Homo sapiens: one gene and its partner. Each later gene encodes a partner of the first gene's protein in a complex. Each region holds a gene or a part of one and is shown in the gene's direction. Other genes may lie near its edges. The genes, in order: PEF1 and KLHL12.

Region 1 (7,705 bases):
CAGCTAATTTTTGTATTTTTAGTAGAGACAGAGTTTCACCATGTTGGTTAGGCTGGTCTTGAACTCCTGACCTCAGGTGATCTGCCTGCCTCGGCCTCCCAAAGTGCTGGGATTATAGATGTGAGCCACCGTGCCCGGCCATGGATATTTTTTTTTTTTTTTTTTTGGTGCTGGAGATCCCAAAGGACTAGATCTTTTTTGTGGCTGTCCTGAACAGTTTATGGGAATAGACGATGTCAACGTACTCTACTTATGATCCCATAATGGAAGGGGAGTGTGGCCAAATTGCCACGTCTGCTGTTCTCATTCCTCTGTTGCTTCTGTGGAAAGTTGCAAATCATCCTCTGATCCACAGCATCCAACTGGAATTTAAATTTCAGAACTGGATCTAGTTGGAATCAAAGAGAATTAATTCCATAATAATTAGGTGGGTGTTGGTATTCCTTCTCAGTAAGCCTTACAGAAGCTTGGTGCGAGCCAAGTGGCTCCTGGGAGGCTGTGTCTCTAGGGGAGGCAATATTTTCCAGTGGATGGGCTTTTCATTACCAAGCTCTGCCTCACCCCTAATGGGTCAACCGCAGGGCTTCCACGAACTCAGGAAAGTGCTCTGTGTTCTAAAAAAAGTCTGGAATCCATGCTTTCCCCTTGGGCTACAAGTGAAACAATAACAGGAACTTCTCCACCCACCTCTGTCTGCCTCAGGTAGATGAGGTTTTGGAAGTGAGTTGATTGTTTTTCAGTCTTAGGAAGATCCTGATCTCTCTTTTATCCAGCCCCCTCCAAAACAAACATACCTGGGCCTGTGTGGGTCCTCAGAGGCACAGCCCTGGCTGTTGGCTTTGGCACGTTCCTGACTCCCTAAGAGAAGATGTGGATGCTCCATCCACGAAATAGCACAGACCTCCCACAGATAGTTCTCCTAAGCCCTTTGCTGGGCATAGGGGAATGGGGGCAAATAATTCTCATAGGAGTTGGATTCTCATCACCTAGAACAGAGCCTGGCAAGAGGTGGGAACCCAATGGGATCATATGTTTGTGGAATAAATGAGTGTGTGTCACATGACTCCAGTTTGCAGGCCAGCTTGTCACTGTTCTCTCTCCAGGCAAATACCCACTTGACCTTCAACCTTCTTCCCTTCTGAAGTTTTGCAGCTCAATTCCACCAATATTTTTTGAACTGGGGGGTTAGGAAGGTAAAGAAGACACAATCTACTAACTATTAAATACTGAGTAGTTAAAAAAAATGCAGACCTGGGATCAAGTCCTACTTCTCCATTTATCTTTTTTTTTTTTTTTTTTTTTCCCCAGACAGAGTCTCTCTGTTGCCCAGGCTGGAGTGCAGTGGTGCAAACACAGCTCATTGCAGCCTTGACCTCCTGGGCTCAAGCAATCCTCCCACCTTGGCCTCTGGAGTGGCTGGGACTCCAGACACATGCCACCATGCCTGGCTAATTTTTTAAAACTATTTTTTGTAGCGATAGGGTCTCACTATGTTGTCCAGGCTGGTTTCGAACTCCTAGGCTTAAGCGGTCCTCCTCCCTGCCTCCCAAAGTGTTGGGATTATAGGCGCGAGTCACTGCGCCTGGGCTCCATTTATCTTTTTGATAACAGGAAGGTCACTTAACCTCTCTGAGCCTCAGCTCCTCATTATAAATGGGTAATAGTCTCTATCTCAAAAGACTGTGGTGAAAATTAAACAACACATAGTACTTAGCACAACGTCTGGCACCTAGTAAGCACTCAATACATGATAATAATAACTACTAACATTGAATTCATGCTAGGCACTATTCTAGGTGCTGAGGTTAGAGGACTACATAAGAAAATGACAATTCTACAATATACATGTAAACAAAGTGGACAATTCAACTAGTGACATGTATTATGAAAAAATAAGATAGATGATGGGAATGCTTGGGGGGCAGTGTCAAGAAACTCCCCCCACCCCAGGTGATATCTGAACTGAGACCTGGATGATAAGGAGAAGCCAACCAGTGAAAAGTCAAGGGAAGACTATCCCAGACAGAGGGAAAAGCTAGTCCAAAGACCTGGAGGCAGGAATGAGCAGGCAGTCAGAGACCAGCCAAAGCCAACATCCAGGAATGAGCTCTGTACATTCCAGGAATGGCACAACCAGGCCGGCATGGCTGGAATGAGGCAAGGGGGACAGCAACAGCAAGAAATGAGGCTGGAGATGCTGGTATGTGTGGCCATGAATGTCATTAGGATGAGTTTAGCTTTTATTATAAGAGTGATGGGAAGTCCCCAGGGAGTTGAAGCCAAGGAATAAGATAACCACTCTGGCTGCCTGTGGAGAAAATGAAGCGTGGGGAGAAGAGTGAGAGCAGGAACATTGGTCAGTCGGCTATTGTAGTGATCCAGGCACGGATGATAGTGTCTTGGACTACAGTGATAGTGCGAACAGGGAGAAAAGAGCAGATGTGTACATGTTTGAATTAGAGCAAATGGAGATGAGGGAGGTGAGGGAGTGTGTGGAGAAAAAAAGGACACACAGGAATGATCTTAGGTTTTTGGCCTGAGAGACTGGGTGGATTTTCTGAGATGGAGAGGAATGGGTTTTGGGGAAAACACCAAAAGAAAACTCTTATACAAGGCAGGCTGGAATACCACACAGTGACAGTACCAAGTGCAAAGGGGGAGTGGCAAGAGAGAGTGGCTAACTCTGGAGCTAAGGGGAATGTGGGAGGGTTAGGTGGAGAATGGAATTGGAACTGAGCCTTGCAGGACTGGAGTTGGGAGGGCTGCTGGTCCAGGTGAAAGGAGTGGTTTGAACCTAAGTTTGGGGCATGAGCAGGTATAATAAGCTCATTTTCAAATTTACACATTTGTTCCTGTCAGCTAAGAAAAGTGAAATTTAGAGAGGTTAAATAACTTGCCTAAATAAAATGTGGTAGATATACACTGTGGAATACTATGCAGCCATAAAAAAGGAACAAGATCATGTCCTTTGCAGGGACGTGGATGGAATTGGAAGCCATTATCCTCAGCAAACTAACAGAGAAACAGAAAACCAAACACCGCATGTTACCACTTATAAGTGGGAGCTGAATGAGGAGAGCACATACACCACTGGGGTCTGTCGGAGCGTAGAGGGAGGTGGGAAGAGGGAGAGCATCAGGAAGAATAGCTAATGGATGCTGGGCTTAACACTTGGGTGATGGGATGATGTGTGCGACAAACCACCATGGCACACATTTACCTATGTAACAAACCACATCCTGCTCATATACCCCTGATCTTAAAAGTTGGAAATTAAAAACAAACAAACAAAAAACCTGCCTAAGGTGATACAGTTAGAAAGTGATAAAACAAAGATCCTCCCTCCAAAGCAGAAGTGCTGAATGGTGGAACTGAGCACAGAAATACAGAGTAGCAGAAGGGGCCGTAAGATTGGAAAGTTGAGGCTGGGCCAGATTCTGAAGGGCCTGGAGTACCAGAATGAAGAGATTGGGCCTTATTTTGTAGGCGTGGATGAAGAGCATCCATTGTAGGCTGTGTAGTGGGCAAGTGGCATGATCAGCACTGTGATTTTGGAAAGTGCACTTGGTTAGATAGATGGACTAGACTGGATAACAGTTCGTAACATTCATTTATTCATTTATTTTAATAATCGTGTCAGTCGCTATACTAGGTACTGGAGTTATAATGACAAGCAAAAACAGACAAAACCCTAGCCCACATGAAAGAACTTGACAAAGAAATCAAATAAGCACACAAATAAGTGTAGAAACGGAACCACTGAGTGGCAAGTACATGGTGCTGAGATCACTCGGTCACCAGGATTTGACCTACGATGGGGACCGACCTAGACCTCCCTGCTGAGAACTGGACATCCATTGACCCCGGTTCTAGGCGACCCACTGTGAGCTAGGGCAAGGCAACTGCCTCTCTGCACCTCAGTTTCCCCATTTATGAAGAAAGAGGCACTAGATAATTCAATTTTCCTCCAACTCTAATGATCTGGGGTTTTTTTCTCCAAAGACCACAGATCTGTATCCCACTACAAGGGTACTAACTGGTACCCAGTACCTTGACATTAGAGGAGTAATTCCGCCATCGCCTCTCCCTACCGGGAAGAGTCGGTCGGTTCCCCGTTGTCAGGGCAACCGCCTGGCCACCGCCCCTCGTCTCCTTTCCCGCGGCTCATCTGCGGAAACTCAGGAGCTACTCCAGCAATTACGTCACTATCATGCGTCCCATTTGCCAGGTTATAACATGGCTACCGCAGCAACACCCCACCCAGGCTTCTCACTAAATTTCCCAACCTGACCACCTCTTCGGCCCACTCCACCTCAGGAAAAGGAGGAACATTAGCGCTGGTACAGCCGCCAAGACTTCCGGAAGCTCCATCAATCACTTAGCTCCCCTGGTCTCTCGGGTAGGCATCCGCCCACCGCCCCCATCGTCACTTCCGTCGGCCGACAGCACCCAAGATTGACAGGCGCGGACGTCCAATCAGATGCGGGCCCAGCCCCAAAGCCGAGACGAGGGGCGGGTTTGAGAGCGGAAAGCCCCACCCCTTGCCTGAGTGTGACGTCAGAATCACCATGGCCAGCTATCCTTACCGGCAGGTGAGTGTGTGAGGGGCCCGCGAATCCAGGTAGCGGCGGTGCCAGGCGCAGGCCCGACGTCCCCCTGCTCTTTCTCCCCGCTTTCTCCGCGCCCTTCCCACGATGGGTTCGCTTCAGCGAGGCCTTGCGCTGTAGAGAACCGAAAAGGGACCGTCGGTCGCGCCCTGCTCACGTCATGAAGGACCGCACATTCGCGAGGTCGTGTCGCGCCCCCTTGACGTCGCTCACTCGAGGATTTGGGGACCTTGGACCCCACAGGTCCAGGCTGGCGCTGGCCTGGGCTCCACAGCCTCCCAAGGCCCTCATGGGGGCCTTGGGCGGGGGCATCAGCCATGACCGGAGGTTTAGAGTTCTGGTTCCGCCGATCTCATTTGGGGCGTCGGATAAAAATCCAGGCTTCCGGACCCACCCCACACTGCATCAGAGTCATCAGGAAACTCTGGTTGTAGCAGGCGCCACAAGTGAGCTGGTTTGACCACTGACTTAGTTCAACACCGCCATTTCGCGTGTAGAAAAGTGAACCCCGAGAAGACACAGAACTTACCTGAAGTCACCAGGCAGTTAGGCAGCAGGGCCGAGGTCAGAACCCGGGCTATCTTCAGATGCCTCTTCCCCAGCGTATCTTGATTCAGTCAGGAATACCGCAGCAAGGTGATTCTGTGGCCAGAATTCTTTGTTGGGTGATAGTAGGGTGTTGAAGTGCACTTTGGTGTCAGAGGTAGGTTCATATCTTAGCTCTACCACCTAAATAGTTGTGAGCCCTTGAGCAAGCTGTTTTGCCTTTCTGAGTCCAAGTTTCCGCCTGTAAAATAGGGCCGAATAATAGGATCTGCCTCATAAAGCTGTTGTGGAGAGTCAGGAGGTGATGCTTACGAAGCGTTTGGTACATAGTGAGGTGTAACATGTGTTGCCCTTTAGCATTTTGATTTTTAGTAGACTTCTAAAAGGCCAGTGCCCGGAGGGTCCTCAAAATAGAGCCCTCATTTTACAGAGGAGGAAATGAAGCCCACAGAGGGCTGCGATCACACAGTTATTTAGGAGATGAAATCCATAAACGAAATGTGGGAAAACAAGATCAATTGGTATATTACACAGTGCTCAACTGAGTTTAGTCACAGGCCAAAAGATGTAACAGTCCTTCCAGGGAGTGCAGTCTTGTGCGGGTTACACAGTGTTTGGACCTCCATTATCCTAATCATGAAGTCCCTATCGGCATGCAGGTATTATTACCCCTAATTAACTGCTGAGGAGCAAACCCAAAGAGGTTAAGTGGCTTCCCAAAAGTCACACGTAGTAAGTGAGGGTGAGGCCATGACCAGAGCTTAGGACTTCTCTTATTGCATCCTTAGAGAGAGGTAGGAAAGAGAGAGGCCAGTGCGGGCTGGAGTTAGGAAGTGTAGCATAGCAGTTGCTTCCTAAAGTCCATTCCATTTGCTGAGTCTTGGGAGGTTTTAATAGATATTGTTAATATAGGAGGATTCTGTAGTTAACTAAAGTTTTGGAAATACTCTTAAGTATAGCTGAATAAGTTTATTGACCACAAGCTATTTCAGAATCCTTAATTTGCTAATGTACATTGTAAATCATCCAGAAAGGAATATAATATGCAGTATTTCTTAAACATATCTAACCATAGAAACTCCGCCTCCCGGCTTTCTTTTCAGATGTCTGGTCACTTTTTTGACTCTAGTATTTCTGAGGAACACAGGCTGAAAAAACATTCATAGCGCCTTGTTTCCCAGTGGCTGGTCTTCTGCCTCAGAATCAGCTGAGAGCTTGTTTAAGAAAGCACACTTTTGGGTCCCACTTCAGACCTGTTCTGTACCCAGGAATCTACATGCTAATAAGCATTAGGGACAATTGGTGTGCATCCTAAAAGCAGTGACAGGTTAGAGAGAACTGTGCTAGAATTCTAGCTGTATTACTTAATAGTTATATACCCCTGGACAAACTAAGGGCTCTGAGCCTCAGCTTCCTCACCTGTATAAAGGGAGAAATAATACCTGTGAAAAGGGCTAAAATGAGGTTAAAATGCAGGGAGCCTGGCGTGTTGCTAGTGCCTAGTACATGCCAGTGTCTGGTGGCAGCTCTTGCTGCCGTGACTGCTCTCATGATGCCATGCTGCCTGGGCTATTCCTGGAGTGAAATACTGAAAAGGAGCACAGAGAGAAGAGTCTGGAATAGAAAAAGAAATGTTGTTTTTTTTTCCTACCATACCCTTGTCCGCCTCCTGGTCTCAGGTGTTCTAAGAAAGGAAACGAGTTGTTTTAAAGCATCTCAGTCAGTGCTGCCTCCCCTCCACCCACTACATAGCTTTGGAGGATTCCAGCCTATTGTTAGGAGTCAGAATTCCTGTAATTTTCCACTGCTTCCAGTCCAGGGTACCCAAGCAGGGACTGGGTATTGGAGTAGTAAAATTCAAGCACCCTTTGGTCCTATGGGGGAACGAGCTTGGTGGATTTCAGTGCTTAAGAGCTTAGTTTTTGAGGCCAGAGAGAGTTGATTTCAAATCCCTGCTTTGTCACTCCCTTGCAGAAGTTTGTTGCAAAAGTCTGAGACTCAGTTTTCCCTTTTTTGAAAAAAATTTTTTATTTATTTGTTTATTTTTAAGACAGAGTCTTGCTCTGTCGCCCAGGCTGGAGTGCAATGGCACAATCTTGGCTCACTGCAACCTCCGTCTCCCGGGTTCAAGCAGTTCTCCTGCCTCAGCCTCCCAAGTAGCTGGAATTACAGGCGCACGCCACCACACCTGGCTAATTTTTTGTATTTTTAGTAGAGACGGGGTTTCGCCATGTTGGCCAGGCTGGTCTCAAACTCCTAACCTCAGGTGATCCACCTGCCTCAGCCTCCCACAGTGTTGGGATTACAGGCGTGAGCCACCACGCCTGGACTAGTTTTCCCTTCTTTAGAATGGGGTCATAATAGTATCTACCTCAGAATTACTCTAAAGATTAAATGAGAAAATCCACGTAAAGTGCTAGGTATGGTGTTGGGCATGTAGAATACTCCAAGTGGAGGAGTAATGCAGTTATGCAGATTGAAGAGGCAATGTGATAAGTATTCAATGGGAGTAAGTGTAAGGTACAGCACGGGAGAGTGAGATACCTAACTCA
Region 2 (7,275 bases), about 170 Mb from region 1:
CACATTAGAAAAGTTGCAGCATGGTCAGTGTCACATCTCAAACTCTTTTTCTCCTGTTTGTGATTTCTGTCTTTCTTACAACCAATTCACATATCCCTTGTGTCTAGTTCTTTACATTGTGTTTAGGAGCACAGACTCTGGAACCAGACTCGGGCCTGAAATCCCAAATTCACCACTTACTCTGTGAACTTAATATGTCTTAATATATTTGTGCCTTAGCTTTCTTATGTGTAAAACAGGGATGATAATAGTACGTTCCTCATAGGTTCTTGTTAGCATTGAGTAAGTTACTATGTGAAAACTTTTAAAACCAAGTCTTTGTACATAAGTGTTTACTACTATTTATTGTTTGTTTTCCTTTCCAGTTCGACTAAGAACTTCTTGGGTCAGGTTAATAGAGGTGCCATTTAATTAGAGCTGTGTCCTTTAGGGTCCCAACAGGAAACAGATGCTATACTCAAAACAGGACAATTTTAGAAGAGTTTTTTTTAATAAAGAAGCTGTTTACAAAGGCGCAAGTTCAGAGAAACAACAAAAGACAGTGAAATAACCTGGATCTAGGACATAAGCTATTAACAACCCCTAAGCCTGAAGGGACAAGGTTGAGGAGTGGTTACTAGAACCTTAAAGGAAAGAGAATCGTGTAGAGTCACTGCCTTGAGAGAAACCTTGACCTTTGGTTGGGCTGATCCCAACCAGAAGCTAGAAGGCATAGGAAGCCCTATTGACACAGTTCATATAGGCCAGTCTTCTGAGCCAGAGAGCAGAGTGGAAAAAGGTACAGAGTGAGTTGGGAGGCAAATGAAAGATGTCCAGTACAGAGCTGTCAGAAATAGACAATGGTAATTACAACAGGACTGTGAACCTTGGGGGAGATATTTCAGACAAAATATGATTCTTCCTGTCACCCAGAAAATAACAGAATCTTTTTGGTTTTCCCCTTAAAATTCTTATTAGTTATTATGTACTTGTGTTTGCATAATCCCTGGAAGGGCATCCAAACTATGTAAAAATAGTTAAATGTAAGCGCTGCGATAGATGGGAAATACTGCTCAACATATCTGTTTATATCATTTGATTTTTGATCCATCTAGTATGTTATCTATTTTTCAAGTAAATTTTAAAAATCATTTCTGGAAACCGAGAGCATGGTTACTACCAGCAATACTCCTGGAATCACAGGGCTTTGCAAACTGGTTTTCTGTAGTCAGAAGTTAATTATTTGCATGTGCTCTTTGTACTCTTATAGTATTACAGGTATCCCCAGTGCCTAACTCTGCTGTCTGCTATATTTCAGCCTTTCATCCGCTGTAGTTTACAATGCAGGGATCTGGTTGATGAAGCAAAGAAGTTTCATCTGAGGCCTGAACTTCGGAGTCAGATGCAGGGACCCAGGACAAGGGCTCGCCTAGGTAAGCTGGTATCTCGGCAGAATGAGGGGATGCTTTTCAACTACTTCTTGCAGGTGACAACATAGTTGAAAATAATACTCTATAAGAAGTACAGACACCTCGTTTCAGACCTTTTCTTCTATCATCTCAGACAAGTCACTTTACCACTCTAAGCTTTCTTTCCTATAAATCAAGGATGTCTTCTCTATCTACTTCACATAATTATTTGGAAATTAAATGAGATAAAATATAAAAGCACTTTATACATTGTCAGGCATTACATAATATGTTACAATTTTTTGTCAATATTATTTAGATTCTGTGAATTAGAGATAATTTTAGTGCCACATAATGGCAGGTAAGTAGTATATGCTTCCACCCACCTCTTCACTTCCCCTTATGTGGTTTTTCCATTCCGGAATGAAGAGAGGAAGAAAAGGAGCCCAGTGTGGTAGAAAGTACATGGGTTTTGGCAGTTACTGTTGGTGCAGGTACCAGTTTACCTCGTACTAGATTTATTAACTTGGGCAGGAACCTTAACCTCTGTGTGCTTCAGTTGCCTCATCTGTAAATGGAATCATCGTAGCACCTGCCTGTAACATTGTTATGAAGAGTAAATAAAGTTATTTATGTAAAGCCTTAAAACACTTCTTGGCACATAATAACTATGTGTATTAGCTATTATCTTAGCAAATAGACCTAGGTTCAAATCCAAGCCCCAGCAATGACTGGTTGGGCAAGGTATCAATTTATCTGAGCCTGTATGTCTACCACTAAGATGAGAGTTAGTGTCTTATCTCAGTGTTGGGAGGATTGAATGAGATAATGTATATAAGATACCTAACACTATAGCTGGCACACACTAAATACTCAGATATCACCATACTTTCCACTTCCTATTCTCTTTGCTTCACTGTCCAAAAGCCTAGGTGTATAGTGTATAAAAACATTTTATAAGTTATGAATTACTCTATATGTATGGGGTGGTATTTTGTTTTATTGTTTCCTTTTATCTGACTGAGGACTCATGATGCGTGCTAAGGTGTTAGTTGATAATTAAGCTGCTCACTGATGGGTTTAGGTAGAATGGTGATTTATCCGCTATATTTTATTTTTTTTAATAGAAATGAGGTCTCACTATGTTGCCCAGGGTGGAGTGCAGTGGCGTGATCTCGGTTCACTGCAGCCTTAGCCTCCTGGACTCAAGCAGTCTTCCCACCTCAGCCTCCCAAGTAGCTGGGACCGCAGGCACGTGCCACCATGCCTGGCTAATTTTTATATTTTTTTGTAGAGACAGAGCCTTCCTTTGTTGCCCAGGCTGGGTCTTGAACTCCTGGACTCAAGCAGTTCACCTGCCTTGGCCTCCCAAAGTGCTGGGATTACAGGCCTCCCATATATATATATATAATTTTTTTCCTTTTTTTTTTTTTTTTAAGACAGAGTCTTGCTCTGTCACCCAGACTGGAGTGCAGTGGTGCAATCTTGGCTCACTACAACCTCTCCCAGGTTCAAGCAATTCTTGTGCCTCAGACTCCCGAGTAGCTGGGACAACAGGCGACTGCCACCATCCCTGGCTAATTTTTGTATTTTTGGTAGAGACAGGGTTTCTCCATGTTGACCAGGCTGGTCTCTAACTCCTGGCTGCAATTGATCCACCCACCTTGGCCTCCCAAAGTGCTGGGATTACAGGCATGAGCCACCATGCCTGGCTCCCTCTCCTATATTTTTTAATGGCATAAGTACTGCATGTTCAATGTAGAACTTGTAGAAATACAGAGAAGCAAAAAATAAATAAAAATCATCCATAATCTTACCACTCAAAGATACTGCATTTTTTTAAAAAGAGAACTTTTAGATAGGGCATTGTAGATGGTATTTTCTACTACTGCAAGATGACAAAATGTGATCTGTGTTTCATATGCTTTATACACAGATACATATCAACACAAGATAGATTGAAGGACTGAATGGTGAAAAACTATGAGAATATTAGAAGAAATTATAGGAAAATATTTGTATACCTTCTGGATGGAAGTCTTTTTTTTCTTTTTTGTAAAATATATGTAACAGGCCGGGCACGGTGTCTCACACCTGTAATCCCAGCACTTTGGGAGGCCAAGGTGGGCAGATCACTTGAGGTCAGTAGTTCGAGACCAGCCTGGCCAACATGGTGAAACCCCATGTCTACTAAAAATACAAAAATTAGCTGAGTGTGGTGGTGCACACCTGTAATCCCAGCTACTCTGGAGGCTGAGGCAGGAGAATCGCTTGAACCCGGGAGGCGGAGGTTGCAGTGAGCCAAGATTGCACCATTGTACTCCAGCCTGGGCGACAGAGTGAGACTCCATCTCAAAAATAAATAAATTAATTAAATAAAATATATTTAGCATAAAATTTACCATCTTAACCATTTTTACATGTACAGTTGACTCATGTTAAATACATTGTTATACAATCAATCTCTGTAACTCTTTTTGTCTTAACAAGACTGAAACTCTGTACCCATTAAACAATAAACTCCCAATTTTGCCTTTCCTCCCAGGGTAGGAACTTTTTTTTTTTTTTTTTTTTTTTTGAGACGAAGCGTTGCTCTTGTTGCCCAGGCTGGAGTGCAGTGGCATAATCTTTGCTCACTGCAACCTCTGTCTCCTGGGTTCAAGCGATTCTCCTGCCTCAGCCTCCCAAGTAGCTGGGATTACAGGTGTGTGCCACCACGCCTGGCTAATTTTTTGTATTTTTTAGTAGAGACGGGGTTTCACCACGTTGGCCAGGCTGGTCTCGGACTCCTGACGTCAGGTGATCCGCCCACCTCAGCCTCCTAAAGTGCTGGGATTACGGGCATGAGCCACCGCGCCTGGCCATTACTTTTGTTTTTTAAAAAATAATTATTATTTTTAAAAATTGGGTTGGGTGGCCGGGCGCGGTGGCTCATGCCCGTAATCCCAGCACTTTGGGAGGCCGAGGCGGGTGGATCACGAGGTCAGGAGATCGAGACCATCCAGGCTAACACGGTGAAACCCCGTATCTACTAAAAATACAAAAAAAAAAAAAAAAAAAAAAAAGCCAGGTGTGGTGGCGGGCACCTGTAGTTCAAGCTACTCAGGAGGCTGAGGCAGGAGAATGGCGTGAACCCAGGAGATGGAGCCTGCAGTAAGCTGAGATCACGCCACTGCACTCCAGCCTGGGCGACAGAGTGAGACTCTGTCTAAAAAAAAATCGGGTTGGGTATCCCTAATCTGAAAATCTTGAAATTCAAAATGCTCCAAGATCTAAAACTTTGAGTGCCAACATAATGCTCAAAGGAAATGCTCATTGAAGCATTTTGGATTTGGGGTTTCTGAATTAGGGATGCGCAAATAGTTGTGCAAAGAAATAATGCAGATATTACAAAAATCCAAAAGTGTCTGAAATCTGTAGCGCTTCTTGTCGTAAGCATTTCAGATAAGGGTTACTCAACCTATACCATGAAAGCCAGTGATGTAGTGGAAAGAACCTGGCACTAGGAGATAAGACATTTTGCTTACTTTGATTTTTACTCCAATTTCCGACACTCACTCTAGTAACTTGCTGTTTGGACAAGTCCTTTAACTTCTCTGGGTTACCAGTTCTTTATATCAACAGAGTTAATGTTCAGTCACTAAGGTACTTTCCAACACAGAAAAATGTTTCCTTTTTGCATGATAGCACTCATTATTTGCTTATTAAATTGAACTAAAAGCTAATGAAAATTTTTGTGAATCAGTAAACCCAGAAGATTCTTTGGAGGTACATTTCTTGCATATCTCTGAACAGGCAGCAGAAGGGGCTCCTGCTTGGTTAGAGAACTTGCTTATTGCCCTGACCTTAAGGGATTAAACTATAAATCTATATATCTTCATAGTCTTGAGGTTATTTTTCAGAAGTTCTAGAAGGGAAATGCTGAAGCAGTTTCCAATTAGATTCTTAGTATCGCTTTGTCAGTGCCTTAGCAGGTAGATTGTTCTTACCATCATGTCCTCTACCCATCTCTATGCATATTGGCTGCTAAACCAGCTACCAGGATAATGACTCTTCTGCATACAGCAGAAGGAAATTAAATTGACAGCCAAGTTAAAATAGCCTGCCAAATAAGGGATTTTTAGTTATTAACCTTACCCATTACTGTCTCAAAGAAGATATAATGGAAATTACTTTTCTAATTTGTGGCTGTCTCCTTTTTTGAACTAAAGATCAGTGCAAATGGAAATGTGAGTCTCTGAACCCTGTTATTTTAGCAGTCCTGCATCTGCCTTATTTCTCTAACAACGTGTCACAGCACACACACACTCCCCTTCCCCTCTTTCTAAAAATAATGACCATGCCACTGCCAGGTTCTTCAGTTTTAGAAATGTGCTTTTTCACACTGTTCTTGTAAGATGTCCTAGACAAGCTTTTCTCATTAAAAAGATAAAAATCTCACTTAACAAGTACTCCATCATTGGCAGAGAACAAACAGGCTTCTTTCAGGTTGACTCTTTCACTAGCTTTTTTTTACACGAGTCAGATTGTTTGAGTATTGGTCTCCAACTTAGGGTTAAAACATTAAAACCTTAGGAGTTCTTCTGGGGAAGAAGGACTTTCTAGGCACAAAATAGTGGAAGAAATGACAAAGAATAAAAACATATTTGAATAAATAAAAAAATCATATACAAAATTATGATAAATTAGGAACATAGGTTTGGAACAACCCTTTAAAGGGTTAAAGGGTTGGCCTGGCAGGGTGCCTTACGCCTGTAATCCCAGCGCTTTGGGAGGCTGAGGCAGGTGGATCACCTGAGATCGGGAGTTTGAGACCAGCCTGACCAACATGGAGAAATCCTGTCTCTACTAAAAATACAAAATTAGCCGGGCTTGGTGGCACATGCCTGTAATCCCAGCTACTCGGGAAATTGCTTGAACCTGGGAGGTGGAGATTGTGGTGAACCAAGATCGTGCCATTGCACTCCAGCCTGGGCAACAAGAGCAAAACTCCATCTCATAGATAGATAGATAGATAAATAGATAGATAGATAGATAGATACATAGATAGATAGATAAAGGGTTAAAGGGTTAAAACCATTTGTGTGTAAAGAGCTCATAAGAATGCATGAGACAGGGCCAAGAGCAGTGGCTCACACCTGTAATCCCAGCACTTTGAGAGGCTGAGGCAGGCGATGGAGCCCAGGAATTCGAGACCAGCCTGGCCAACAGGATGAAACCCTGTCTCTACTAAAAGTATAAAAATTAGCCAGGCATGGTGACGCATGCCTGTAATCCCAGCTATTGGGGAGGTTGAGGCAGGAGAATCATTTTAGCCCAGGAGGCAGAGGTTGCAGTGAGCCAAGATCACACCACTGCACTCCAGCCTGGGCCACAGAGCAAGACGCCGTTTCAAAAAAAAAAAGAAAAGAAAAAAATTAGTGGTCCCAGCTACTAGGGAAGCTGAAGTGGGAGGCTAGGAGGATGCTTGAGCCCAGGAGGTCGAGGCTGAGGCTGCAGTGAACCATAATTGCACCAGTGCACTCTAGCCTGGGCAGCAGAGCAAGACCTTGTCTCAAAAAAGAAAAAAAAAACAAGAATGCATGAGAGAAACAATAAAGATTTGAGTGTACAGTTCGCAGAAGGGCAAGTAAAGCTGGCTACTAGATACAAGGGAGGGAGTTCAACCTAATTAATAATAGGGTCTTATTAGTTATAAAGAATTAAACATAATTTTTTGCCTACCAGAGTGTCAGAGATTTAAAAACTATCCAGTGCCTCAGAAAGTAGAATGAGTTGGCACCTTTATAGTGTTGGTGGGAGTGTAATTGGTAACAGCTTCAAAAAGTCACCTTATGTCTCAAAGTAATTTTTTTTTTTTTTTTTTTTTTTTTTGAGACAAGGTCTC

Evidence for each region.
Region 2: the proteins of PEF1 (region 1) and KLHL12 are in contact, whole or in part, in a crystal structure (PDB 8RBH), measured with the Homo sapiens proteins. Residues at the interface, in NP_036524.1 of Homo sapiens: Gly15, Gln16, Ala17, Pro18, Gly19, Ala20, Pro21, Pro22; in NP_067646.1 of Homo sapiens: Phe289, Gln293, Arg320, Tyr321, Leu371, Glu417, Tyr434, Ile439, Phe481, His486, Cys511, Tyr512, Tyr528, Leu533, Cys558.

Annotation. Positions count from the first base shown.
Region 1 is NC_000001.11:31,641,728-31,649,432, reverse strand, and holds the start of PEF1 (peflin), read left to right. Parts: upstream 1-4,556; 5' UTR 4,557-4,568; coding exon 4,569-4,592; exon of another isoform or gene 4,593-7,705. UniProt on the Homo sapiens protein: Calcium-binding protein that acts as an adapter that bridges unrelated proteins or stabilizes weak protein-protein complexes in response to calcium.
Region 2 is NC_000001.11:202,903,147-202,910,421, reverse strand, and holds part of KLHL12 (kelch-like protein 12), read left to right. Parts: intron 1-1,297; coding exon 1,298-1,412; intron 1,413-7,275. UniProt on the Homo sapiens protein: Substrate-specific adapter of a BCR (BTB-CUL3-RBX1) E3 ubiquitin ligase complex that acts as a negative regulator of Wnt signaling pathway and ER-Golgi transport.